5 separate regions of the Homo sapiens genome follow, and all the other regions are linked to region 2. Evidence: fine-mapped QTL for protein levels in blood plasma. Region 2 holds a variant in brackets. A gene starts in each other region. All regions are shown on their forward strands. Region 1 holds the start of CSF3 (colony stimulating factor 3). Region 2 overlaps CSF3R (colony stimulating factor 3 receptor). Region 3 holds the start of RETN (resistin). Region 4 holds the start of LCN2 (lipocalin 2). Region 5 holds the start of CRISP3 (cysteine rich secretory protein 3).

Evidence for each region. PIP is the chance, under the fine-mapping model, that this variant and not a neighbour inherited with it causes the effect. Protein levels are from antibody-based Olink assays in UK Biobank. Linkage for the fine-mapping came from a reference panel and not from the study's own genotypes, which makes the PIPs less certain.
Region 1: CSF3 starts here. The variant in region 2 is fine-mapped to the plasma level of the CSF3 protein (UK Biobank, PIP above 0.99).
Region 3: it holds the start of RETN, and the variant in region 2 is fine-mapped to the plasma level of the RETN protein (UK Biobank, PIP above 0.99).
Region 4: LCN2 starts here. The variant in region 2 is fine-mapped to the plasma level of the LCN2 protein (UK Biobank, PIP above 0.99).
Region 5: it holds the start of CRISP3, and the variant in region 2 is fine-mapped to the plasma level of the CRISP3 protein (UK Biobank, PIP above 0.99).

What each region holds. Positions count from the first base shown.
Region 1 is chr17:40,012,171-40,018,470 of GRCh38, forward strand. CSF3 (colony stimulating factor 3) reads left to right here and starts at 3,270. Exons shown (of 5, transcript NM_172219.3): 1 at 3,270-3,344; 2 at 3,521-3,675; 3 at 4,063-4,170; 4 at 4,315-4,461; 5 at 4,625-5,643. The coding sequence starts at 3,305. The coding sequence ends at 4,789. PSMD3-AS1 (PSMD3 antisense RNA 1) reads right to left here and starts at 2,471. Exons shown (of 3, transcript NR_198981.1): 1 at 2,384-2,471; 2 at 2,068-2,189; 3 at 1-634. RefSeq lists enhancers at 1-75, 3,180-3,679.
Region 2 is chr1:36,475,601-36,479,499 of GRCh38, forward strand. CSF3R (colony stimulating factor 3 receptor) reads right to left here. Exons shown (of 17, transcript NM_000760.4): 3 at 3,833-3,899; 4 at 1-73. The coding sequence starts at 3,896. Among named protein-coding and RNA genes, the nearest start is that of CSF3R, 5.4 kb to the right of the region's middle. The variant C/G (reference allele first, on the strand shown) is at 2,715.
Region 3 is chr19:7,665,962-7,672,261 of GRCh38, forward strand. It overlaps RETN (resistin), which reads left to right and starts at 3,088. Exons shown (of 4, transcript NM_020415.4): 1 at 3,088-3,160; 2 at 3,356-3,483; 3 at 3,860-3,937; 4 at 4,258-4,494. The coding sequence starts at 3,366. The coding sequence ends at 4,388. It also overlaps the pseudogene RPS27AP19.
Region 4 is chr9:128,146,554-128,151,553 of GRCh38, forward strand. LCN2 (lipocalin 2) reads left to right here and starts at 2,900. Exons shown (of 7, transcript NM_005564.5): 1 at 2,900-3,110; 2 at 3,685-3,821. The coding sequence starts at 2,973. RefSeq lists an enhancer at 1-120 and a silencer at 4,250-4,299.
Region 5 is chr6:49,741,386-49,747,685 of GRCh38, forward strand. CRISP3 (cysteine rich secretory protein 3) reads right to left here and starts at 3,003. Exons shown (of 8, transcript NM_006061.4): 1 at 2,946-3,003. The coding sequence starts at 2,982.

The DNA.
Region 1 (6,300 bases), not on the chromosome of region 2:
CTCTGTATCTAGTTAATCTAGTGGGGACGTGGAGAACCTTTGTGTCTAGCTCAGGGATTGTAAACGCACCAATCAGCGCCCTGTCAAAACAGACCACTCGGCTCTACCAATCAGCAGGATGTGGGTGGGGCCAGATAAGAGAATAAAAGCAGGCTGCCCGAGCCAGCAGTGGCAACGGGCACAGGTCCCCATCCACAATATGGCAGCTTTGTTCTTTTGCTGTTTGCGATAAATCTTGCTACTGCTCGCTTTTTGGGTCCACACTGCTTTTATGAGCTGTAACACTCACCACGAAGGTCTGCAGCTTCACTCCTGAAGCCACTAAGACCACGAGCCCACCGGGAGGAATGAACAACTCCGGCCGCGCTGCCTTAAGAGCTATAACACTCACCGCGAAGGTCTGCAGCTTCACTCCTCAGCCAGCGAGACCACGAACCCACCAGAAGGAAGAAACTGCGAACACATCTGAACATCAGAAGGAACAAACTCCAGATGCACCACCTTAAGAGCTGTAACACTCACTGCGAGGGTCCGCGGCTTCCTTCTTGAAGTCAGTGAGACCAAGCACTCACCAGTTTCGGACACAAGCCCAGGAGTTTGAGATCAGCCTGGGCAACATGATGAAATGCCCTCTCTGCAAAAAAAAAAAAATTACAAAAATTGGCGGAGCATGGTGGTCCGTGCCTGTGGTCCCAGCTACGCGGGAGGCTAAAGTGGGAGGATCGCTTGAGCCTGGGAGGTGAAGACTGCAGTGAGCTGTGATTGTACCACAGCCCTCTAGGCTGGGGGACAGACTGAGACCCTGTTTCCCCTCCGCAAAAAAATTGACAAAAGTGTAATAAGAGGTGCCTGATATGGCTAGGCGCAGTGGCTCATGCCTGTAATCCCAGCACTTTGGGAAGCCGAGGCGGGCGGGTCACCTAAGGTCAGGAGTGTGAGACCAGCCTGGCCAACATGGAGAAAGCCCATCTCTTCTAAAAATACAAAATTAGCCGGCTGTGGGGGCAGTGGTGGAGCATGCCTGTAATCCCAGCTACTCAGGAGGCTGAGGCAGGAGAATCACTTGAACCCAGGAGGCGGCGGTTGCAGTGAGCCGAGATCGTGCCATTGCACTCCACCCACTCCAGCCTGGGCAACAAGAGCCAAACTCTGTCTTAAAAAAAAAAAAAAAAAGTGCCTGACATATAAGAGGTGTGCAATGCAATAGTTGCCAGGCAACATGTTTAAGAATGTGGAGCTCCTGCCTTCCATGGTCCTGTTAAAAACCCACCCTCAAGGCCAGGTGCAGTGGCTCATGCCTATAATCCCAGCACTTTGGGAGGCCGAGGCGGGTGGATCACCTGAGGTCAGGAGTTCGAGACCAGCCTGACCACCAACATGGTGAAATCCCACCTCTACTAAAAATACAAAATTAGATGAGCATGGTGGTGCATGCCTGTAATCCCACCTACTTGGGAGGCTGAGGCAGGAAAATCACTAGAACCAGGGAGGCGGAGGTTGTAGTGAGCCGAGATCGTGCCATTGCACTCCAGCCTGAGCAATGAGCGAAACTCCATCTCAAAAAAACAACAACAAAAACCCACCCTCTACTCCCAGGGAGCTGGGTACAGAGCTGGGCCACATCAGTGCAAGGTGCTGAGCCACAGAGCTAAGGCGGAGCTGCAGGACCGCGGACCAGATAACAGTGTGTGAGATCAGTGTGTGAGATCAGACGTCCCTGCCATTGGTGACCACCAGGGGGCCCCCAAGCACCAGAGATGGCCCCATCCAGTCACCACATCCACTTCTCATCCAGAGATGTCTGTTTCTTGGCACGCTGGGGTAAATTAGGACAGAAGGTGACAGTCTTGGGTGTGGTCAGTCAGACTGCCCCAGGCAGGCCTTGTGGCCTGTAGAAAACGTTCAGGCCTAGGCCGGGCACGGTGGCTCACGCCTGTAATCCCAGCACTTTGGGAGGCCGAGGCGGGTGGATCACGAGGTCAGGAGATCGTGACCATCCTGGCTAACACGGTGAAACCCCGTCTCTACTAAAAATACAAAAAATTGGCCGGGCATGGTGGCGGGCACCTGTAGTTCCAGCTACTCGGGAGGCTGAGGCAGGAGAATGGCGTGAACCCGAGAGGCAGAGTTTGCAGTGAGCCGAGATCGCGCCACTGCACTCCAGCCTGGGCGACAGAGCAAGACTCCATCTGGAAAAGAAAAAGAAAACGTTCAGGTCTGAGCCAGAGGCCCAGGCTGTAATTCTGTCACTTACCATGACCTTGGGCAAGGCACTTCCTTCCCTGGCCCAGTTCACGGGGTTGGAATCGACTCCAAGGTCCCTTCCAGCATTAACGCTGCATGGTTCTAAGATGAGAAGATGGGGCAGTTTCCCCTCTCTCACCCCAGCCCGTGTCCACTTCAAGGTGAATGACCAGGGAAGTCACGTGTCCCAATCCCGCAGTTCCAAAGCCCTTGGGGACCCTACTGTCAGGGTCGTGCACGAGGAGGTGAAGGTCAGGTGAGCCAATCGCCTCGAAGGGTCTTGCCTCATTCGGGACAGACATCCGGTTTCCTCTGGCTCTACCGGGATTCTAGGGGCTTTAGCCGAATGAGTCATGGGGGGCGGGGGGGTTTCTGGGGGAGTTCCCAGCTAATCAACTTGGGACAGGACAGCCTGGAACTTTCGATGGTGCCTATCCAAGTGTGGGGTGGGCACAGCAGCCAAGACCCAATGTCCTTATCTCAGGTAGGGGCTCAGGAGGTCTCCCAGACAGGCAGCCTCCGGAGAGTTTGGGGGTAGGAATGGGAGCAACCAGCTTCTTTTTTTCTCTCTTAGAATTTGGGGGCTTGGGGGACAGGCTTGAGAATCCCAAAGGAGAGGGGCAAAGGACACTGCCCCCGCAAGTCTGCCAGAGCAGAGAGGGAGACCCCGACTCAGCTGCCACTTCCCCACAGGCTGCTGCCGCTTCCAGGCGTCTATCAGCGGCTCAGCCTTTGTTCAGCTGTTCTGTTCAAACACTCTGGGGCCATTCAGGCCTGGGTGGGGCAGCGGGAGGAAGGGAGTTTGAGGGGGGCAAGGCGACGTCAAAGGAGGATCAGAGATTCCACAATTTCACAAAACTTTCGCAAACAGCTTTTTGTTCCAACCCCCCTGCATTGTCTTGGACACCAAATTTGCATAAATCCTGGGAAGTTATTACTAAGCCTTAGTCGTGGCCCCAGGTAATTTCCTCCCAGGCCTCCATGGGGTTATGTATAAAGGCCCCCCTAGAGCTGGGCCCCAAAACAGCCCGGAGCCTGCAGCCCAGCCCCACCCAGACCCATGGCTGGACCTGCCACCCAGAGCCCCATGAAGCTGATGGGTGAGTGTCTTGGCCCAGGATGGGAGAGCCGCCTGCCCTGGCATGGGAGGGAGGCTGGTGTGACAGAGGGGCTGGGGATCCCCGTTCTGGGAATGGGGATTAAAGGCACCCAGTGTCCCCGAGAGGGCCTCAGGTGGTAGGGAACAGCATGTCTCCTGAGCCCGCTCTGTCCCCAGCCCTGCAGCTGCTGCTGTGGCACAGTGCACTCTGGACAGTGCAGGAAGCCACCCCCCTGGGCCCTGCCAGCTCCCTGCCCCAGAGCTTCCTGCTCAAGTGCTTAGAGCAAGTGAGGAAGATCCAGGGCGATGGCGCAGCGCTCCAGGAGAAGCTGGTGAGTGAGGTGGGTGAGAGGGCTGTGGAGGGAAGCCCGGTGGGGAGAGCTAAGGGGGATGGAACTGCAGGGCCAACATCCTCTGGAAGGGACGTGGGAGAATATTAGGAGCAGTGGAGCTGGGGAAGGCTGGGAAGGGACTTGGGGAGGAGGACCTTGGTGGGGACAGTGCTCGGGAGGGCTGGCTGGGATGGGAGTGGAGGCATTACATTCAGGAGAAAGGGCAAGGGCCCCTGTGAGATCAGAGAGTGGGGGTGCAGGGCAGAGAGGAACTGAACAGCCTGGCAGGACATGGAGGGAGGGGAAAGACCAGAGAGTCGGGGAGGACCCGGGAAGGAGCGGCGACCCGGCCATGGCGAGTCTCACTCAGCATCCTTCCATCCCCAGTGTGCCACCTACAAGCTGTGCCACCCCGAGGAGCTGGTGCTGCTCGGACACTCTCTGGGCATCCCCTGGGCTCCCCTGAGCAGCTGCCCCAGCCAGGCCCTGCAGCTGGTGAGTGTCAGGAAAGGATAAGGCTAATGAGGAGGGGGAAGGAGAGGAGGAACACCCATGGGCTCCCCCATGTCTCCAGGTTCCAAGCTGGGGGCCTGACGTATCTCAGGCAGCACCCCCTAACTCTTCCGCTCTGTCTCACAGGCAGGCTGCTTGAGCCAACTCCATAGCGGCCTTTTCCTCTACCAGGGGCTCCTGCAGGCCCTGGAAGGGATCTCCCCCGAGTTGGGTCCCACCTTGGACACACTGCAGCTGGACGTCGCCGACTTTGCCACCACCATCTGGCAGCAGGTGAGCCTTGTTGGGCAGGGTGGCCAAGGTCGTGCTGGCATTCTGGGCACCACAGCCAGGCCTGTGTATGGGCCCTGTCCATGCTGTCACCCCCAGCATTTCCTCATTTGTAATAACGCCCACTCAGAAGGGCCCAACCACTGATCACAGCTTTCCCCCACAGATGGAAGAACTGGGAATGGCCCCTGCCCTGCAGCCCACCCAGGGTGCCATGCCGGCCTTCGCCTCTGCTTTCCAGCGCCGGGCAGGAGGGGTCCTGGTTGCCTCCCATCTGCAGAGCTTCCTGGAGGTGTCGTACCGCGTTCTACGCCACCTTGCCCAGCCCTGAGCCAAGCCCTCCCCATCCCATGTATTTATCTCTATTTAATATTTATGTCTATTTAAGCCTCATATTTAAAGACAGGGAAGAGCAGAACGGAGCCCCAGGCCTCTGTGTCCTTCCCTGCATTTCTGAGTTTCATTCTCCTGCCTGTAGCAGTGAGAAAAAGCTCCTGTCCTCCCATCCCCTGGACTGGGAGGTAGATAGGTAAATACCAAGTATTTATTACTATGACTGCTCCCCAGCCCTGGCTCTGCAATGGGCACTGGGATGAGCCGCTGTGAGCCCCTGGTCCTGAGGGTCCCCACCTGGGACCCTTGAGAGTATCAGGTCTCCCACGTGGGAGACAAGAAATCCCTGTTTAATATTTAAACAGCAGTGTTCCCCATCTGGGTCCTTGCACCCCTCACTCTGGCCTCAGCCGACTGCACAGCGGCCCCTGCATCCCCTTGGCTGTGAGGCCCCTGGACAAGCAGAGGTGGCCAGAGCTGGGAGGCATGGCCCTGGGGTCCCACGAATTTGCTGGGGAATCTCGTTTTTCTTCTTAAGACTTTTGGGACATGGTTTGACTCCCGAACATCACCGACGCGTCTCCTGTTTTTCTGGGTGGCCTCGGGACACCTGCCCTGCCCCCACGAGGGTCAGGACTGTGACTCTTTTTAGGGCCAGGCAGGTGCCTGGACATTTGCCTTGCTGGACGGGGACTGGGGATGTGGGAGGGAGCAGACAGGAGGAATCATGTCAGGCCTGTGTGTGAAAGGAAGCTCCACTGTCACCCTCCACCTCTTCACCCCCCACTCACCAGTGTCCCCTCCACTGTCACATTGTAACTGAACTTCAGGATAATAAAGTGTTTGCCTCCAGTCACGTCCTTCCTCCTTCTTGAGTCCAGCTGGTGCCTGGCCAGGGGCTGGGGAGGTGGCTGAAGGGTGGGAGAGGCCAGAGGGAGGTCGGGGAGGAGGTCTGGGGAGGAGGTCCAGGGAGGAGGAGGAAAGTTCTCAAGTTCGTCTGACATTCATTCCGTTAGCACATATTTATCTGAGCACCTACTCTGTGCAGACGCTGGGCTAAGTGCTGGGGACACAGCAGGGAACAAGGCAGACATGGAATCTGCACTCGAGCAGCCAAAGCCTGGCAGGGAAGACAGAGGCACAGGGACCATGGGAACCCGGAAAGGAGAGGGCATGGGGTCTGGGTGGGCTTAACAGGCCAGACACAGCCAGACAAGATGAAGCCAGGGAGTGCTGAGCATCTGCACCAGGCTTGTCATTTACCATCTTCCATAAACTTGAGCCCATCCATCAAGTTGCCCACAAAGTGGAAGCCAAGTTCAAGGTGACCACTGGGGTCAGAGCTTCTCTCCTCAGACTCGGTCTCTGCACTCGCCCCAGCTGGTCACTTCCTGCTTGTGGCAGCCTTGGGCTGAAGAGCGCTAAGCTCACAGCCCAGGAGGGTGGGGAGCTGTGGCAAGCAGGGGGGGCAGCGACCGCACCACAGGTGTGAGGCCTGCCTGCAGCCAA
Region 2 (3,899 bases):
CAGGAGGCTGTGATGGGATCCCCCAGGTGGACGATGGGGGCTGAGACACTGATGTGCCCGCACTCCTCCAGACCTGGGGTGGAAGAGAATGGGCCAGGAACGACGCCTCTGCCTAGCAGAGCTGGGCTATAATCTAGGCCTTTGTACTCCTAGACTCAGAGGCCTCACCTTCCTGTCTCACCCTTCAAGATATGGGGGCTGGAAATGGAAGGATGGGGACGGAGACTTCGAGAGGCTACGGGGGTGACACAGAGATAGTGATGTGCTGGTAACCGTTTATCAGCCAGCTTGGCAGAGAAAAGCAGACCCTGGTTTGTAGTGTGTGCCTTTCCGCGGTGTAAGTGCTCTCACTGTAGCTGATTTCAGCCTATTGATGTGACATCATTGATCGGGGAGTTGGGAAGAGATGTGCACAATTAGTTTTTGCAAGCCAGCACCAGCACACCACCAGATGGAGACTGTTAACTCCCCAGTGCCCTCCCCAAGGATGGTGCAAGCAGTGATTAGAGTGATAAGAACCCATAGCCACAGCAATCTTTTCACAATTCAAATCTGATTCTGCTACCCCATCTCCATCGCAGCACTTCAATGGCACATTATTGCTCTGAAAGGCAGTGTGGTGTGATGGATGAGTGTGGATGTTGGAACTAGACTGCCTAGGTTTAAATTCTGGTTCTATTGCTTATTAATTACATGATCCTGGTATATTTCTAAGACTTCCTGTGCCTCAGTTTTCTCATCTGTAAAATGGGGATAAAAATCGTCCCTACCTTAGTGTTGCTGGAAGGATTACATGCGATAACATATGGAAGGCATTTAGAGCAGTGTCTGGCATGTGAGTATTTGCTGCCATCATTAGGATAAACACTCAAATCCTTCAATAGCTCCTGTGGCCTGGCCCCTGCCTGACCCTCTCAGTTCCAGCTTATACCGGTCTCTCAGCTCCAGCTATTCTGGCTCATTCTTGCTATTCTTTGAAAACTCCAAAATCTTTCTAATCTCTGGATCTTTGTCCCTGCTGTTTTTTTTTTTTTGTTGTTGTTGTTTTGTTTTGGTTTTCTTTTTCTTTTCTTTTTTTTCTTCAAGTTCTTGCTCTGTCACTCAGGCTGGAGTGCAGTGGCACGATCACGGCTCAGTGCACCCTTGACCTCCTAGGCTCAAGTGATCTTCCCACCTCAGCCTCCTGAGTAGCTGGGACTACAGGTTCATGCCAGCACACCTTGCTAATTTTTTGATTTTTTTTTTTTTTGGTAGAGATGGGGTTTCACTATGTTGCCTAGGCTAATCTTGAGCTCCTGGGCTCAAGCAATCCTCCTGCTTCAGCCTCCCAAAGTGCTGGGACTACAGATGTGAACCACTGTGCCCGGCATGCTGTTCTTTTTGGAGGGACTCTTCTTTCTCTCTCCCACCCCTGTTTCACCTGGTTAACGCTTAGGCATCTTGAAGAAACCAGACCAGGCACTAACGAACTGGAGGAGGCCAAGGTCCCTGTACTTCCTCAAAGCTCTTATTATCCTTCATAATTATAGAGTCTTATGATTATTTACTTATCTATCACTCCAGCTAGACTATAAATTCTGTGAGGCCAGCAGACCTTGGCTGTTTGCTTATTACTGTATTCCCAGTGCCTAGTACAGAGTAGGACCTTGGTGAATATTTATTATTATTATTATTTTGAGAAGGAGTTTCGCTCTGTCACCCAGGCTGGAGTGCTGTGGCACAATCTCGGCTCACTGCAACCTCCGCCTCCCAGGTTCAAGCGATTCTCCTGCCTCAGCCTCCCGAAAAGCTGGGGCTACAGGCACGCACCACCATGCCCGGCTAATTTTTTTTTGTATTTTTAGTAGAGATGGGTTTTCACCATGCTGGCAGGCTGGTCTCGATCTCCTGACCTCGTGATCCACCCGCCTCAGCCTCCCAAAGTGCTAGGATGACAGGCATGAGCCACTGCGCCCGGCCGATGAATTTTTTTTGATAAATAAATAAACAAACAAATCAACATACACTTTGCCCGCAATGCTTTCTGTCCTCTCTCAGGTGTTCTTAGGCCCGTTTTACTGATGGGGATGCGAAGGCCCTAAGAGGAGAAGCAGTTTGCCCAGGGTCACAGAGCAAGTTCATGATTCTCAACAAAGGGCTTCTACTGCTTCACAGGCTCAGGATTTCTTTTTTTTTTTTGAGACGGAGTCACTCTGCTGCCCAGGCTGGAGTGCAGTGGCGTGATCTCGGCTTACTGCAAGCGCCGCCTGCTGGGCTCACGCCATTGTCCTGCCTCAGCCTCCCGAGTAGCTAGGACTACAGGCACCCGGCACCATGCCCGGCTAATTTTTTGTATTTTTAGTAGATACAGGGTTTCACTGTGTTCACCAGGATGGTCTCGATCTCCTGACCTTGTGATCCACCCGCCTAGGCCTCCCAAAGTGCTGGGATTACAGGCGTGAGCCACCGCGCCCGGCCCAGACTCAGGATTTCAGGCTGGAAGAAACTTTACAAGGTTGTTTGCTTCAAAACTCTACCTGATGCTCTGCCCTCTACAGCAGGGCTTGAGTGGCCTATTTTTGTATAGCCTAACAACTAAAGATGTTTCTTACATTTTAAAAGAGTTAAAAACAAGCAAAGCAAAAACCAAATAAAAACATGCCACAGGGCTGGGCGCGGTGGTTCATGCCTGTAATCCCAGCACTTTGGGAGGCCGAGGTGAGTGGATCACCTGA[C/G]GTCAGGAGTTTGAGACCAGCCTGGCCAACATGGTGAAACCCCATCTCTAGTAAAAATACAAAAATTTGCAGGGCCTGGTGGCAGGTGCCTGTAATCCCAGCTATTCGGGAGGCTGAGGCAGGAGAATCGCTTGAACCCGGCAGGCGGAGGTTGCAGTGAGCTGAGATCCCGCTACTGTACTTCAGCCTGGGCAAGAGAGTGAGACTCCATCTCAAAAAACAAAAAAACAAAAACCAAAAAACATGCAATAGGCAGGGCGTGGCGGGTCATGCTTGTAATCCCCATACTTTGGGAGGTCAGGGCAGGTGGATTGCTGGAACCCAGGAGTTTGAGACCAGCCTGGGCAACATGGCAAAACTACATCTCTACAAAAAAATACAACAACAAAAAAAAATTAGCTGGGTGTGGTGGCATGCCCTGCACTACCTTGGAGGCTGAGGCGGGAGGATCACTTGAGCCCAGGAGGTTGAGGCTGCAGTGAGCTGCGATTGTGCCACTGCACTCCAGCCTGGGCAACAGAGGGAGACCCTGTCTCACAAACGAACAAACAAACAAACAAACAAACAAACAAGGAACAGAGACAGTATGTGGCCTGCAAAGCCTAAACATTACTGTCAGAAAAAGTTTGCCAACCCCTGCTGCACAGCATCTTTATCAATCCTGGCTTTAGCTTGCATACCCCTGGGGATGGGAAGTTCTCTACCTCTCAAGACAGAGTTTCCATGGTTGGAAACCAAGCTCTGCCTGGGCTTCTTTATTTCAGGATGAAACCTGTCCCCTTGTAGCTTCCATCCTGATCCCTTTGCTGCCCACCAAGGCTGCATAGGACCCATGGGTTGCTTCTGACAGCTTGGTAGAGATTTGCGGACAAGATCTGCGCCTCACTGGCCTTTTCCAGGATGACCAGCCCGGGTCGTCTCACCATTCCTCTTGGGTGGTGGTTTGCCTGTGGAAGTCTGTGGGTGGGAGACCAGCTACCCCACATCTGTGGCTCAGACTTGAATCTTGTGGGATTCTCTGGGAATCCCAGGAGCCATGTGGCAGTGCAAGGAAATTCCCAATATCTCTCCTTGTAGCTTCCCCTCCCCACTGCACCCTCATCCTTGGCCATACTCACTTCCGGGGAGCAGCAGGATGATCAGGGCAGCCCAAGTCAGGCTGCAGTTTCCCAGCCTTGCCATAGC
Region 3 (6,300 bases), not on the chromosome of region 2:
TTTTTGAGATGGAGTCTCGCTCTGTAGCTCAGGCTGGAGTGCAGTGGTGCAATCTCGGCTCACTGCAACCTCTGCCTCCCGGGTCCCAGTTCAAGCAATTCTCCTGCCTCAGCCTCCCGAGTAGCTGGGATTACAGGCACGTGCCACCACGCCCAGCTAATTTTTGTATTTTTAGTAGAGACAGGATTTCACCATGTTGGCCAGGCTGGTCTTGAACTCCTGACCTCGTGATCCACCTGCCTCGGCCTCCCAAAGTGCTGGGATTACAGGCCTGAGCCACTGAGCCCGGCCAGAAGAAGAAGTCTTACCTGCAAGACGAATAAGCACAAGAGAAAGAAGGTGAAGCTGGCTGTCCTGAAATATTATAAGGTGGATGAGAATGGCAAAATTAGTCACCTTCGTCGAGGTTGCCCTTCTGATGAATGTGGTGCTGCAGTGTTTATGGCAAGCCACTTTGACAGACATTATTGTGGCAAATGTTGTCTGACTTACTGCTTCAACAAACCAGAAGACAAATAACTGTATGAATTAACAAAAGACGGCCAGGCGCAGTGGCTTACACCTGTAATCCCAGCACTTTGGGAGGCCGAGACGGGCGGATCACAAGGTCAGGAGATCGAGACCATCCTGGCTAACATGGTGAAACCCCGTCTCTACTAAAAATACAAAAAAATTAGCTGGGCATGGTGGCGGGCGCCTATAGTCCCAGCTACTCGGGAGGCTGAGGCAGGAGAATGGAGTGAACCCGGGAGGCGGAGCTTGCAGTGAGCCGAGATCGTGCCACTGCACTCCAGCCAGGGCAACAGAGTGAGACTCCATCTCAAAAAAGAAAGAAAACCCACAAAAGACGTGAACTAACAAAAACAAACAAACAAACAAAAAAACAAAACAAAAGCTGGAAGCAACCCAAGTGTCCATCGATGGATGAAGGAATAAACACAACGTGGTTCATCCACACAAGGGAATGTGATACAGCCATGGAAAGGAAAACAGTTCTGACTCAGGCTACAGCAGGGATGAACCTTGGGGATATTATGCTCAGTGAAATAAGCAGATACAAAAGGACAAACACTGTGTGATTCCACTCCTAGGAGGTCCCTAGAGTCATCAGATCCATAGAGGCAGAAAGCAAGATGGAGGGTGCCAGGGGCTGGGGAGAGGGATAGGGAGTGAGTGTTTCATGGGGACAGAGTTTCAGTTTGGAAAGAGGAGAAAGTTCTGGAGATGGACGGCAGTGGTGGCTACATAACAACATGAATGTGCTTATTGCCACAGAATTGTGCTCTGAAAAATGGTTAAAATAGGCTGGGCATGGTGGCTCACACCTGTAATCCCGGCACTTTGGGAGGCTGAGGCGGGTGGATCACTTGAGGTCAGGAATTTGAGACCAGCCTGGCCAACATGGTGAAACCCCATCTCTACTAAAAATACAAAAAATTAGCCGGGCATGGTGGTGCACGCCTGTAATCCCAGCTACTCGGGAGGCTGAGGCAGGAGAATTGCTTGAACCCAGGAGGTGGAGGTTGCAGTGAGCCAAGATTGAGCCACTGTACTCCAGCCTGAGCAACTGAGTGAGACTCTGAAACAAAGAAACAAACAAAAGCAATGGTTAAAATGGAACAAGATGGTGCATACCTGTAGCTTCAGCTACTGGGGAGTCCAAGGTGGGAGGATTACTTGAAGCCAGGAGTCTGACACTAGCTTGGGCAACATAGCAAGACCCCGTCTCAAAAAAAAAAAAAAAAAGGCCGGGCACGGTGGTTCACGCCTGTAATCCCAGCACTTTGGGAGGCCAAGGCGGGCAGATCACAAGGTCAGGGGATCGAGACCATCCTGGCTAACACGGTGAAACTCCATCTCTACTAAAAAAAAAAAAATACAAAAAATTAGCTGGGCGTGGTGGCAGGCGCCTGTAGTCCCAGCTACTTGGGAGGCTGAAGCAGGAGAATGGCGTGAACCCAGGAGGCGGAGCTTGTAGTGAGCCGAGATCGCGCCACTGCACTCCAGCCTGGGCGACAGAGCAAGATTCCGTCTCAAAAAAGAAAAAAGTAAGTTATAATGGTAAGTTGTATGTTATATGTATTTTACCACAAAAAGGCCCGTTGTACTGGAAACAAAGAACAAATAAAAATGTAATAACCATTCCAAGCTCATGGGTGGTCCAAGAAGAAACATGAGCTGGACCTTGGCCCATGAGCAATGGCTTTCCAACTTCTGTTGCAGGTGATGCCATTGATGGAATAAACCATGATTTTTCTTTCTTCTTTTTGAGATGGAGTCTTGCTATGGTGCCCAAGCTAGTCATCCAGGATGGAGTGCAGGGGCACGATCTCAGTGCACTGCAACCTCCACATCCCGGGTTCAAGTGATTCTCCCACCTCAGCCTCCCAAGTAGCTGGGATTACAGGCACACGCCACCACGCCCAGTTAATTTTTGTATGTCTAATGGAGACAGGGTTTCATCATGTTGGCCAGGTTGGTCTCAAGCTCCTGACCTCAAGTGATCCGCCCGCCTTGGCCTCCCAAAGTGCTGGGATTACAGGCGTGAGCCACCGGCCATAAACCATGATTTTATTTACCAGTTCTATTGCTCATGGGCATTTGGGTATGAATGTGGTATGTCATTCTCACCCAGAGACATAATTATTATTACTATTTTAGAGAAGTGGTCTTGCTCTGTTGCCCAGACTGGAGTGCAGTGCTGTGATCATAAGTCACTGTAGCTTCGAACTCCCGGGCTCAAGCAATTCTCTCACGTCAGCCTCCTTAGTAGCTGGGACTACAAGTGCTTGTCCGCACCATGCCTAGCAAGAGGCATTAATTTTGTCATGTTTGCATCAGCCACCCTTGCATGCAAAACTCTGCTTGTCTACCTGTTCCTCAGACCACAGCCCCTGGCATTATCCCTGGGGCACCACCTCCTGACCAGTCTCTGGACATGAAGACGGAGGCCCTGTTGGAAGTGGGAAGGCTCCCTTCCTCCTCCAGCCCTTACTGTCTGCTCAGGGGCTTCCTCTTGGCCCCGGATGTGGGACCGGAGGGTTGGGGGCCCAGGGACTTATTAGCCAAGCCAGGAAGCCCCACCCCAAGAGGCCTCAAAGAAAGAGCTGCGGTGCAGGAATTCGTGTGCCGGATTTGGTTAGCTGAGCCCACCGAGAGGGTAAGTGACAGCTGCTCCTGCGCTTGCCATGGCACCAGCGGGGAGGCTGGGGTCAAGGCTGAGCCTCCATCCCTGTCCCCCACATGGGGGGACAGGGGTCCAGGTCCAGGGGCAGATCCTACTCCCTCCATGGGCCGGATCTTCCCCACAGGGCAGGGCTGATCCAGCTGTGGGTCTCTTGGTTCCCTCTTTCAGCGCCTGCAGGATGAAAGCTCTCTGTCTCCTCCTCCTCCCTGTCCTGGGGCTGTTGGTGTCTAGCAAGACCCTGTGCTCCATGGAAGAAGCCATCAATGAGAGGATCCAGGAGGTCGCCGGCTCCCTAAGTGAGGACCCCCCACTTGGGCAAGCTCCCCAAGGGTCTCAGAGACCTCACTGATCCCTGGCACAGACCTGACTCCAACCCAGCCCCAGCGCTCACCAAATCTCATCCTCAAATCCAACCAGATCATAAATTCAACCCCAACTCCACTCCCAACCCCTCCGACTGTCCCCACCTTATCCACGGCTCCAAACCCAATCCCCGCTCTCACTCCAAACCTTCCCTTACTCCAAAACACCCAACTCAAGACAGGGTCCTGGAGGCCAGTGAGCTCCTATGCCCACAGGGACCTAGCTCCAAACCAACAGGGCTAGGGGAGGATGGGGGAGGGACCGTTTGGTCTCACAGCTCCCCCTGTCTCCTTTCCTCCTGCCCCCCAGTATTTAGGGCAATAAGCAGCATTGGCCTGGAGTGCCAGAGCGTCACCTCCAGGGGGGACCTGGCTACTTGCCCCCGAGGTGAGTGCAGGAGACTGTTGTCCAGGCGCCCATTTCTGTTCCAAGTCCCCTGGGAATGCCCCCTCCCCGCCACGTTCCCCGTGTCCAGCCTCTACTCCCCTAGGATCTTGGTCCTGACTCCCAGCCTTCTCCGCCCACCATCTGGACACTGGTGTCCACCCTCACTCCCTGCCTCCAGTGCCCATTCAGTGGTTGGAGCCTCCAGCCGTCCCCGTCCCCACCCCCGCCCCCCCAACCCCCCTCCGCGCTCCCCACCCCCCTCCCGCTCCCACCCTCAGCCTCCCAGCTCAGAGTCCACGCTCCTGTGTTCCGGGCTGCAGGCTTCGCCGTCACCGGCTGCACTTGTGGCTCCGCCTGTGGCTCGTGGGATGTGCGCGCCGAGACCACATGTCACTGCCAGTGCGCGGGCATGGACTGGACCGGAGCGCGCTGCTGTCGTGTGCAGCCCTGAGGTCGCGCGCAGCGCGTGCACAGCGCGGGCGGAGGCGGCTCCAGGTCCGGAGGGGTTGCGGGGGAGCTGGAAATAAACCTGGAGATGATGATGATGATGATGATGATGATGATGGAGCGGATCTGAGCCCTGCGTGGTTTCTTTAGTAGGCCCGGAGGGACTGATCTAGCGTCTCCAAGAGAGTGGGGCGCGTAGCTGCTGGAGGGGGCGGGGACACCGCGACTTTCTACTGCCCCATCGCCCTTCCTCCTATGGGGTCTCCAACTGCTTCCTCCGAAAATAGGGCCTGAACTTCCTCTAGTGACGTCCCCACCCAAGGCTCATGGCTGCCTTCAAGAGGTGACGTCTCATCTTTGAGGCTACCTTGACGCTCACCCTGGGGTCTCCGACCTCCCCAGGAAGTGGCTGGGTCCTTTTCCCCCAGTCCTCATAATGAGGCTTCATCGAGGACCTGGGTCAGTCTGGGCAGTGGACGGGACCCTCCAGGGCCCCAAGACTCCAGGAGCCCCAGGTCAGGGTGGAACCCTGAATCATGTCTCAGCCCAGAGCTGGAACCTGTACCCCTCACTTCCTACCTGCAAGGAGGAATCCCCAAGGCACAGGCAAAGTTGGGTTACGGAGAGTCAGGGACGCCTACCTGACGTCACGCATCATCACAAGCTCACGTTTTCACACAGGCAAGTGCAGTTGTGAGTAGTTAGTTACAACCAGATACACGCAGGGTGCTTACCCCTTCCTGGATACTAGATTATGAAAACACAGAGCAGGGGACTTGTCTGCTCCTAGATCCCCCCCAGGGTTTCGTTTCTTCCCTTCCCTTCCCCTCCCCTCCCCTCCCCTCCCCTCCCCTCCCCTCCTCTCCCCTCTTCTCTTTTCTTTCTTTCTTTCTTTTTTTTTTTTTGAGACAGGGTCTCGCTCTGTTGCCCAGGCTGGAGTGCAGTGGTGCAATCTCGGCTCACCGCAACCTCTGCCTCCTGGGTTCAAGCGATTCTCCTGCCTCAGCCTCCCACGTAGCTGGGACTACAGGCGCTCGCCACCATACCTGGCTAATTTTTGTATTTTTAGTAGAGAAGGAGTTTCACCATGTTGGCTAGGTTGGTCTTGAGCTCCTGGCCTCAAGCGATTCACCCGCCTCAGCCTCCCAAAGTGCTGGGATTACATGCATGAGCCACCGCGCCTGGCCTATTTTTTAATTTTTATTTTCGAGACAAGGTCTTACTCTGGCGCCCAGGCTGGAGTGCAGTGGCACAATCTCGGCTCACTGCAACCTCTGCCTCCTGGGTTCAAGTGATATTCCTGCCTTAGCCTCTCAAGTAGCTGAGATTACAGGTGCCCACCACCATGCCCAGCTAATTTGTATTTTTAGTAGAGAGCGGGTTTCACCATGTTGGCCAGGCTAGTCTCAAACTCCTGACCTCAGGTGATCCACCCACCTCGGCCTTCCAAAGTGCTGGGATTACAGGCATGAGCCACTGCACCCAGCGCCCCCAGGGTTTAGAATAGAGCATGGAACACAGTAGACGTTCAGTAAATGTCTGTTGATCAGTAGCCACATGTGCACTTAGATACAGCACCGACGTGCACATACTGCACATGCACACACAGCTATACACAGCCACGTGCACACACAGAGTACACAACCCACCTACCACGGCCACATGGAGACACCACATCCACAGACACACCCATGTGCCCCTAGACACTCTTGGACACAGAAAGGCACCACCCCCCCGGCCAATGCACGGAGAATCGCAGATTTGACTATGGTGGGCAGAGATGATGCAGGACACAAACACACACATGCTCCAGGCAGACTCTTGCATTTCTGACTCTAGTCCCCACTGCACCTGGATAAGTATCTGATACCCTAGTGCAGCGATCCCCAACCTTTTTGGCACCAGAGACTGTTTTC
Region 4 (5,000 bases), not on the chromosome of region 2:
CTATGTAGAGCTGACCCCCTCCCTGCAGCCCTGCTAGACTCTGAAGAGAGCCAAGGCCAGTGGGTAGGAGACAGGTCTGGAGCTGGTGCAGAGAGAGGAATGAGCCCTGCATGGGTTTGATCAGAAACTCAGCCTTGTGTAGGGACACCCTGGGGCCCGGTGCTGTCCATGCATGACCTCACAGAAGCGCAGAGCTGCCCTCTCTACAGAGGAGCGCCTGATTTGTGTGGGAGCTAGGCAGAGATCTGCATGCATGCGGAGGAGCCAGGCTTCAAGCCAGCCTGGGGGACCCCCAAGCGGGACTATCTCCCCTTCTGCACCTGGCTCTGGTGTCTTCCCACTGTGGACCCAGTGCCCTGCTCACCCACCACATTCATACCCTGGAGTCCTGGGTCCTCAGAGATCCATGACACTGCCTCACCCCCAACTTCAAATTCTCTGGGGCTCCACCCGCTGGTCTCAGCTACGTGAAGCAGTCACCGTAGACTAGAGGGTACTTTTTAGATTTAGGTCACTCTATCATCCAGGCTGGAGTGCAGTGGCACAATCATAGCTCACTGCAGCCTCGGCTTCCTGGGCCCAAGTGATCCTCCCACCTCAGCCTCCCCGAGGATACGTGGTTTTTTTTTTCTTTTTTCAGACAGGGTCTCACTCTGTCTCCCAGGCTGGAGTGCAGTGGTGCGATCTTGGCTCACTGCAGCCTCCGCCTCCCGGGTTCAAGCCATTCTCCTGCCTCAGCCTCCTGAGTAGTTGGGATCATAGGCATGCATCACCCCACCTGGCTAATTTTTGTATTTTTAGTAGAGACGGGGTTTTGCCATATTGGCCAGGCTAGTCCCTGAGGATACATTTTTTTTTTCCCCGAGATGGAGTCTCCCTCTGTCGCCCAGGCTGGAGTGCAATGGCGCAACCTTGGCTCACTGCAACCTCCGCCTCCCAGGTTCAAGCAATTCTTCTGCCTCAGCTTCCCGAGTAGTTGGGATTACAGGCATGCGCCACCATGCCCAACTAATCTTTGTATTTTTACTAGAGACAGGGTTTCACCATGTTGGTCAGGCTGGTCTTGAACACCTGACCTCAGGTTATCCACCCGCCTCAGTCTCCCAAAGTGCTGGAGTTACAGGCGAGAGCCACTGCGCCCAGCCGAGGATACCTTTTTTTTTTTTTTTTTAAGACAGAATATCGCTCTGTTCCAGGCTAAAGTGCAAAGGCGTGATCTCGGCTCACTGCAACCTCCGCCTCCCAGGTTCAAGCTGTTCTTCTGCCTCAGCCTCCCGAGTAGCTGGGATTACAGGCGCCTGCCACCATGCCCTGCTAATTTTTGTATTTTTAGTAGAGATGGGGTTTCACCGTGTTGGCCAGACTGGTCTCGAACTCCTGACCTCGTGATCCACCCGCCTCAGCCTCCCAAATGCTGGGATTACAGATGTGAGCCACCGCACCCGGCCTGGCAGAGGATACTTTTTAAGGTCAAAGACAGTAGCAGAGGTGGAGTTCCTGGGAACAGGGTCATGAGGGGAAGAGGGGGTTCGGAGGGAGCGAGTAGCCACTGGCTACCTCTAGAAAGGGAAGGCTTTGGTGCAACATCGTTCCCCTGCAGTTTTACTCATCTTTGCTTCCTGCCCTTTCATCATCCAATCGGGCAGGCAGGACAGGGCCTGAGGGGGCAGGGATCCAGTGGGTGCCTCTCTAGACTAACCCCAGCTCAGGACTCCCAGAGCCCCTTCCCTGAGGCCCTGCTGCCCCCAAGCCCAGATTGGGGATCCCAAGCAGCACGTAGGCAGAGCCAGTGAGGTCCCCGTTAGTCCCATTGAAAGCTCTAAAACCAGCGAACCCTCAGTCCAGCCTCAGGTCAGGCATCCAGGACGGCCTCAGCCCTCATGGGTGAGCCATCTCTGCGGACACTGCACAGGGCCTACGATCCATCGCTGCCTCCCGAGGATGCCAGCCAGGCCCCCGTTGAGATAACTGCTTCCCTGCTGGACAAGGCTGGGACCAGCCATCTCGGTGACAGTTCCAGAACCCCTGGCCTGGGCTGCTGGGTTCAATGGAAAAAGGCTGTGACTAGAGTCAGGGGGATGGTCTCAGTGACCTCAAGGATAAGGCCAGATCCTTGCACTGTCAGTGACCCAAAGCAACAGGTGTCCAGAGCAGCAGTGTGGCGCCTTCACGCCCCCACACATCAGCCCAACTCACCCAGGACAGGGACTGTAGCCTCAGCACTCAACCCATGTGCCCTGTGTGGGGTCTCTTCCCACTGCACTCACAGGAGAGGAAGGGTCCCTCAGGGGTCCACTGGGGTCCCCTCCTGCAAATGGGGCAAGGAGAGGGGCAAGGGGCTGTCTCAAGGCCCCTGGAGCACATGCAGGTCCTGGACTGGGGCTCCTGGGAGGGCCATGATTCTGGGCTCCATGAGTTCAGAGCAGACGCCTTGTTTTTCCTTGTCCACTGTCAGCCACCCCACCCTTCCCTGACCCTTAAAAGAACCAGGAAACAGCACATGATCTGTTGGAAGGAGGCATTCATTCTTTCCTTTCTGTGGGTGTGGGGAGGGGACCACAGGGCACATACCCCACCCTGGGATCCAGCTGAGCAGGGGGGTCAGAGATGACAGCTCTTCCGGCTCACAGGCCACCGGCCCACATACAGGGCAATCAGAAGAAAGAAACAGCACAAGGAAGGCACAGAGGGAGTCGTTGTCCCTGCCAGAGGTGCAGCACTCCGGGAATGTCCCTCACTCTCCCCGTCCCTCTGTCTTGCCCAATCCTGACCAGGTGCAGAAATCTTGCCAAGTGTTTCCGCAGGAGTTGCTGGCAATTGCCTCACATTCCTGGCCTTGGCAAAGAATGAATCAACCCACCCTAGATCCCATAAATAGGGCCACCCAGGTGAGCCTCTCACTCGCCACCTCCTCTTCCACCCCTGCCAGGCCCAGCAGCCACCACAGCGCCTGCTTCCTCGGCCCTGAAATCATGCCCCTAGGTCTCCTGTGGCTGGGCCTAGCCCTGTTGGGGGCTCTGCATGCCCAGGCCCAGGACTCCACCTCAGACCTGATCCCAGCCCCACCTCTGAGCAAGGTCCCTCTGCAGCAGAACTTCCAGGACAACCAAGTAAGGGGCCAAGAGGGGCACCTGCAGGCAGGGCCTGGGGAAGAGTGGGAGCAGAGGGGAGGAGAGGTGAAGAGACTCAGGAAGAGCGTTGGGCAGGACTCTAGGAGTCCAGGGTCCAGGTTTCAGCTCACTCTGTGCCACCAGGGTCCCCTGGTGGAAACCATGCCCCTTCCCCCCATCCCCACCCCCTCTCAGCCTGAACAGACTCCCCCAGGTCCACATCCCCTCTCCCATAACCCCCATTGTCCAAAGAAGGTGGGAGCACTTTTAGTCCCCCTGCACAGATGAGGAAACTGAGGCTCAGGAAGGCCCACCAGCCACATGCCTCCTCCAGTGAGGAGGTCACCCTCCTCCCTGCCAGACTCAGAACCGCCTCTTCCCCCAGGACTCCCTTCTGGACTGATGGCCTCCTGCTCCTGCCCCTTCACCAGTGCAGGCCCAGCCTGGGCCCTGCTGCCCAGCTAGAGGGGCTCATGGTTCCAAGCTGGGCGGCCCAGAGGTGCCACAGGGACAGAGCTGGAGGGGTGGCTCCTAGGGCCATTCCTGGGTTGTGCCTCTTATCAGTCCCTTGCAGTTCCAGGGGAAGTGGTATGTGGTAGGCCTGGCAGGGAATGCAATTCTCAGAGAAGACAAAGACCCGCAAAAGATGTATGCCACCATCTATGAGCTGAAAGAAGACAAGAGCTACAATGTCACCTCCGTCCTGTTTAGGTGAGGGCCGACATCTCCTGGGGGTGTGAGAGTCAGACTGACGTCACAGGCAAGGGATGGCCAAAGCTGAGGGATCCTGTCGTTCACCTCGCTGTTCTGCCCGGAATTCATCTGTGTTCATCCTTCCTCTGTTCCTTAGAGCAACGTTTATAGCACATTTCCATGCAGACACACAGACAGTGGTGGGGATGGACATGCACAGTCGTTAGAAAACAAGACGGAGAGAGGAGGGGTGCCTGGGAGCGGGAGGAGGGGACACTGGATCCAGCCTGGAACCCCACCCAGTGCCTTCATGGAAGGCTTCCAGGGAGGTGGCCTTAAAAGAGCCAACCTGCTTCAAAAGGAAATGTGGGGTGTTCCCGGCAGGGGCTGGAGTCAGAGAGAGCCCCCCCTTCAGGAAGGAGCAAGCCATCGCAGGGTCACCCTGAGCAGAGCTGCTGAGCAGCCTGGAGGGGCAGGTGGCCACGCTAGCACCTAGCACGGTCCTCAGGCCCCGCCCCAGCGGATCTGCTGCGGAGTGGCTTAGAGCAGGGCTCTTGGGCCGCAGGGTGGGGAGACTTGGTGGGGTGCAGCCTAGGGGGTCGGGAGACCAGCGAAAGTGAAGCGGGGCCGTCACAGGTGTGAGAGAACAGGCGCAGGGTGAAGAGGCAGGGAGCCAGGGATCAGCCGCCCCCAGTGGGTTTCTGACTCTGGCAGCTGAGTGGATTGGGATTGGGGCATTTGTGGAGCAAGGAGCAGAATACAGACAGGTTGGGGAGCTCAGCCCTGGGGTGCCAGGGGATGGGAAGTGGGAGGACTCAAGGATGGGGTCAGGTTTGACCCGAGAGCTAGGGGAACGGCTGGCATGGAGCAGACTGGAAGTACCGAGGTGGATCCCCGGGAGAGGGTATAGGAAGGGAAGCAGCAAGCTGAGTGCAGGGGAGAAATGCAGGGTTTCTGTGTGTTGGGTGGCGGGGGGGGTGAAAGCCACCCAGGGAGGCAGCCAAAGGAAAGAAGGACATCGGGTGCTGGAGGGTCTGAGTGGGGTCCAGGGGCCCCAGGCAGGCCAGGAGGGACAGCCTGGTGTCAGCTCAGGGAGAAGGCCCAGGCCCATCTCGGCTGGGTGGGGTAGGGCCCCTCCAGGTAGTGGGGGATGAGCTGTCACGGGTTGGGCCGGACTGAGAGCAACAGAACCCTGCT
Region 5 (6,300 bases), not on the chromosome of region 2:
AATAATACATAAGCCCACTTCATAAATGAATTGCAAGAATCCTAACAAAATATTAACTCATCAATTTCAAAAATATATTAAAAATATCATGACCAAGTAAAATTATATGAGGACTGCAAGAATAATTCAAAATTAGAAAATTCATTGGTAAAATTCATCACATTAACAGACTAAAGCAAAGTAATATGACAAAAAATACGTCATTAAATTCAACCCCTGTATGTAGTTTTTTTTTTTTTTTTTTTTTTTAAAGAAAAAATAGAAGAGATCATTACTTTGGTAGGAAGCATATACTGCAAATCTATACCCAATATAATGGTTATTGGAGAAATTCTAGGTGCATTTCATTTAATATTGGGAACAAGAAAAGAATGACTAACACTTTTATTTAACACAGTACTGGAGAGATCCTAATCAAAGCCATAAGAAAAGAAAGTATATACATATATATATATATAATATATACAAGTAATGTAATGTATACATTTTATGTTATATATAATAATATAAAATATATTATTATATATAAAATATTTGTAACTTTTGTAAGAGAAGACGTAAAATTGTTATTGTTTTCAAATGATAAGATCATCTATCTGGAGAACACACCAAAATTAACAATTTTGCTAGATGCACTATCAACTTACAAAAATACCATTTCTATTACTGGAAACACTCAACTAGAATATAAGATTTAAGAAACACTTATAACAGTTAAAAAAACTATACAGTATCTGGGAAACAACAAAACAAATTTAAAAATCCTTTTTGGAAAAAATCTTAAAACTTTAATAAAGAACATAGCAGAAGTTCTGAATAAATTGAGAGTTTTGTAATGCTTTTAAATGGTACATGTTAGCATAAAGATATCAATCCTAAACTAACCTGATAATTGTTTACTTTAATTCCAATACAAATTTTAAGTGGCTTATGAATAACTGAGTAAACTTTTAAAAGAAGAATTGCTTGGGCGCAGTGGCTCATGCCTGTAATCCTAGCACTTTGGGAGGCCAAGGAGGGTGGGTTGCCTGAGCTCAGGAGTTTGAGACCACCCTGCGTAACATGGTGAAACCTCGTCTCTACTAAAACTACAAAAGTTAGCCGGGCATGGTGGTGCATGTCTGTAATCCCAGCTACTGGGGAGGCTGAGGCAGGAGAATTGCTTGAAACTAGGAGGTGGAGGTTGCAGCGAGCCGAGAGTGTGCCACTGCACTCCAGCCTGGGCGACAGAGCAAGACTCCATCTCAAAAAAAAAAAAAAAAAAAAGGAAGAAGAAAAGAAAAAGAAAAAAAAGAAAGAATTAATTGGGTTATCTTTTCATATTAGTTATTAAGATAGACTTCAAACATTTGTTGACAAAAATTTAATATTATTGTAGGAACAGATAAATCAACTGGTGGAGGAAAATACAAAACTTAAGAGACAGACCAAACATCGTAACATTAAAAAGCAAAGGAGGAAGAACAGACTATAGAAATATTTTAAAGGATTACGTGGATTAGAAAAGATGTCAAAAGCATTAACACATGTGAGTATAATGTGTGCACTATAGGTATAGACACATTTATAAACTAGTCACAGCACAGAAAAGTATTTGATGCAATATTTTCTTACTTAAAATTTAATAGTTAATCTTTATTCTGATCACTTTCTTTCATCTTATTATGTATCTGTGATACAGAAAGCAGCCTATGCCAATATGCAAAGTTTGCAAAACTGCTAGACTTCATCAAGTAAGAAATTCGTAAAGATATCCAAATAAGAATAGCTGTCTTGCATTTCTTGAGAAGCACTTTTTTTTCAAGGATGAATTCCCTCCCTTTTACTTGAATTCAATAAATAACGTAACTGAAATTCATAGCAATTATCAGATTTACATTACTTGAGAATTCTGACACTCTTCCTCCCAATTCATCCCTGCCTGTTACAAATCAGAAGCCCCAATTTACCTCATAACTTATCAATGTAGGGTAACTCCCAGGCTTGAAACTTGTCATCAATTTAATTTCTTTTGATCCACTTTCAGAGGTCTTAGTCATACAGGCAGACATTCTAGATTTGGTTTTAACTAGCAGAAGAGGCAACACCGGATCTTCTATGGCTATTGCAAATACTCCCAGAGTTTCCTGGATAGCATTTAGCCACAGGGAAGAAAAGCATTTTACTTTAAAATCTTCTGTCTAGTGGTAAATAACCCCTTTCATGTTGTCATTAGGTAGTTCTGTGGTCTCCTACTATCTGACTCTTCAGAATCACTTCTAATATGCTACGGAAGATAAAGCCGTATGTGGAAATTGCTTCCTTAGATGAAATATGCACGATAGATATTATATTTAAATTACCTACATAAACATGACTGAGTAGACTGACTTTTGACTGAAAAACTTCTAAAAGCCTTTTTTTTTTGTTTTTGATCTGAGTGCATTTCATGAGGTAAATTGCATTTTATGTTGATGGTCTTTAATAAAATACTTTTTAATCTTGAGATCAGTGCTATAATTTTGTTTTGACCAATTTAAAACTTTTGCTATGGCATCCCATATAGCTGTATGTTTTAATATTAGTAAAAGTTACTGATGTGAAAGTATGCACACACATATATTCATAGTTTTTCATTTTTCTATTAAAAATAGTTCTAGTACAATTGTTTCCACAAGTCATAGACATGGGAATTAGTTATATTACTTTAGAATGAAAGGTAAAAATTTATTTAAATTTCAAACTGGATAAAAGTGCTTTTGGAATAATAAAGCTGTCTATGTATTAGCTTCTCAGCTTAAAATGAATATATTAAGATAATTACTCTCATTAAAAGTTATCAATAAACTTTGGAAAATTGTAGATAAAATATACGAATATATCACTTTATCATTGATAAGGTATAAATGTGTTGTTCACCTTGAAATAAATAATGTTCACCTTGAAATAAAGGAGTTATCACTTACCAGTGGTTTCCAGAGCAGGATGAAGTATTTGTTTCATCTATTGACAGAAGGAAGGTGCAGAGAGAGAAGGTTAGAGCCGTATATATGAAACACCTATTTCCTGTTTTGGCAAATTCTGGTTGTGCAAGTAACTCTAGATCAACAAGGCCTGAAACAGGATTTGTCATACCAGTAGTCTCAAATTTCATTGCTGGTTTTCTAGTCATGATTTTGAAATTATTTGGTGATTCCTCAAATGGCTTTTAAAAATAAATTGCTATATCAAGTTTTGTAATTGTGCATTTATTCTTTGAAGTTCATATATTACAATTTATCCATGTTTTTGCCAGTCAATAGTTTGAAAATTCTTAGCCCAATTATTAGCATCACAACATTAGAGTTTTCAGAATTATTTCTGTTGGATTGAAATTAAGCTCATAATTTTTATGAACTCTAGAGAACACAATGTTTTTTACAGCTATCTAAAATGTTTATTAATAATCTATTGGACATTACTGTTTTGGATAATAATTTTATCTTTAATGTTTGTAAATACAAGGCCACAGTGACTTTCAGAACTCAATGGCCAAACACACCATAACTCATTGGTATTTCTATATTCAAAGATGTGCTGTATTTACTTGTATTTTCTGGTTGTATAAAATTAAAGATAATATTGATCTCCAAGCTAAATTATCATTATTTGGTTCTGTTCATCTATGGAAGATGTCAATCATTCCAGGCTTGTTTCCATAGCACAATAATGAAGTGGGGTGGACTAACAATTTCAGATTTCCTCTGATTCTAAAATACAATAATCTTAAATATTGAGTTTATATAAATAAAGAAGTATAAATTAATAAATCACAAGTAGCATATACATAGCACGCAGACATTTCTGCATGCTCATATTGGCATATAGATTGCACCTTGTGGTGCATAATTCAATAGTTTCTGTTCATTTTCATTTTTATATTTAGCTTTATTGATCAATGTGACAAAATGTATAATCACAGATCAATGTCTACACAATAGGCACATTTTAAAATTATAGTTAATTTTGAGTTCAAGAATTGGATACTTCTAAATGTCTGTTATAAGAGAGTTGAGAACTCAGAAACTCAGGTCAGATTTTACCATTAAAAAATGGTTAACCATTTGCTGCCATGTCTCCAAGTAACTCCTAGAATCTGTTTACTTTATGAACATGTGAAGTGGAAGCTCTCAATAAACCAAATCAGCTATGTGGAAAAAATCACCATGGAACAACCTTCTACACAATCCTCTTTCTGTGGCAAAATGTATTTTGTGGGGAAGGACCAGACCCAGAAGCATCCACAGCCCATTCTCTTCTCTACTTAGTGGTGTAGAATGTTGTTAAAAGCTTGATATTTCTGTTTTAATGGAAATGGGCTAAATTTCTATACCAATGTGTATTGGGAAATTTTTATATTTTATTATTTTATTTTATATCATATTTTATTTTATTTGAAGCAGGATCTCACTCTATCATCCAAACTGGAGTGCAGTGGTTAGATCAGAACTCATTGTAGCCTTGAATTTCTGGGCTCAAGGGATCTCCTATTTCAGCTTCCCAAGGAGCTGAGACCATGGTGTGCACTACTATACACAGCTAATTTTTTAAATTTTTTTGTAGAGACAGAGTCTTGCTATGTTGCCCAGCTAGTGTCGAATTTCTGGCTTCAAGCAATCCTCCTGTCTTGGCCTCCCAAAGTTCTGGACTTACAGGCATGAGCCACAGCACCTACTTTATTAGGAAATTATTATTCTGATTGTAAATTTTCATATTTATCATAAATGGGAATAATATTAATTGTATTTAATTGTGATACATAATATATGTAAGCTGCCTGCCATGTAGTAAGTATTTCCAGTGTTAATTCTCTCCCACTTTATGCACTTTTCTTCTGTATCTAGACAAACCTACCCCTAATATTTGTAAGCTGTGGGATTGCACTTGAGTTTTAGGACATGGTTTGACTTACTAAGCTATAGGCAGTTCTGTGAGAAATTACCATAAGTAGACACAAAACAGTATAAAAAGGAAAAATATTTTTGCCTCATTATTCAAACTTGATAGTTTTTCTCTAACTTTTTACTGAGTTATGACTAAATGACCACTAGATGCACCATGATGTAGAAGGCATTTTGCTTGTCAAATATTGGTACATTTATTATTAAGCTAAATAAGTATATGTGGTCTTTTTGGGTCACAAAATACCATACACACGTTGGACTGACAGACTGACTTCAATCTGACCTTAAGTGTCCAAAATGGCTGTTTCTAGTCACCTTTGTTCTCTCATTTCCCATGATTAGGTTGTCTTTTCTGTATTTACGTGTCCCAAGGTCATTGCTGGCCCTTCATGATCCATGTCTCCCAATTTTAGCAGTGAGTGTCTTCCAGCTCTTATTTGGATATCTAAGTTCCATCTTAAAAGAGCAAATAGTTTGTTCCTGTATATACATTTTAATCTATTCCCACTATTCTATTGAAACTTATCAATGAGTCTCTTAGCGACTGTTGCTATTAATCATTACATTTTGTTTTAGGAATGCTCCTTTTCTTACTCTTTAAAATTATTCTTCTATTCCTATGCTTTGACTAGTACAGTGTAACCAGATTGTCTATAATATGAATAAATAAAGCACAGCTTCCATCTCTTCCTAGTCAGCCCTTCTCTCATCTTAGATACAACAACATCTGAATGCTGCCTTCCTGGGATTTCTACACTGACCACCCAAAACTGACTAGTTATTACAAGGGCAACTGGGATCCCTGCCTTACAGCTGAACTCTTGACCCAGCTTTTTATGACTTTTACTTCCCCATTATTACCAACTACCTATAGTTTACTGATTACAGTCTTTGGAAATTGCCAGGTCTGAGAAATCCTTTCTGAGCTTCAGTTTTCTCTTCTCTGAAATGTGAATTTTCATATCATACGTTGGTTTTAATGACTGAAAAGCATAATTTGTGTATAAAAATGTACTGAATACATAATTAAACTATTAGTGCGATGCTTGGCATGTGACACTCAATAAATGGAATTATTAACATTTGTATTATTATCCCTTCCAAAGCCTGGTATTTCCTGAGTACATAAAAGTCTTCCACGAATGCATTTTGTTTGATTGAACTGCCAATTCAGGAGTCTTTATAAGAAGTCTTTCTTGTTTTAGGTATTTAGGAAACAATCATAGTTTAACCAGAAATTCAAGTGTTTAAGGTGCAGTTCTATCAAAGCCTGTCAGGGTGACTTTAACAAAATGATTGAGCATCTCTCATTTTCTGTATCCTCACCAATAAATTAAGGAGCACAGACTCAGGTGCATTTTAGAATTAGAATTAATTT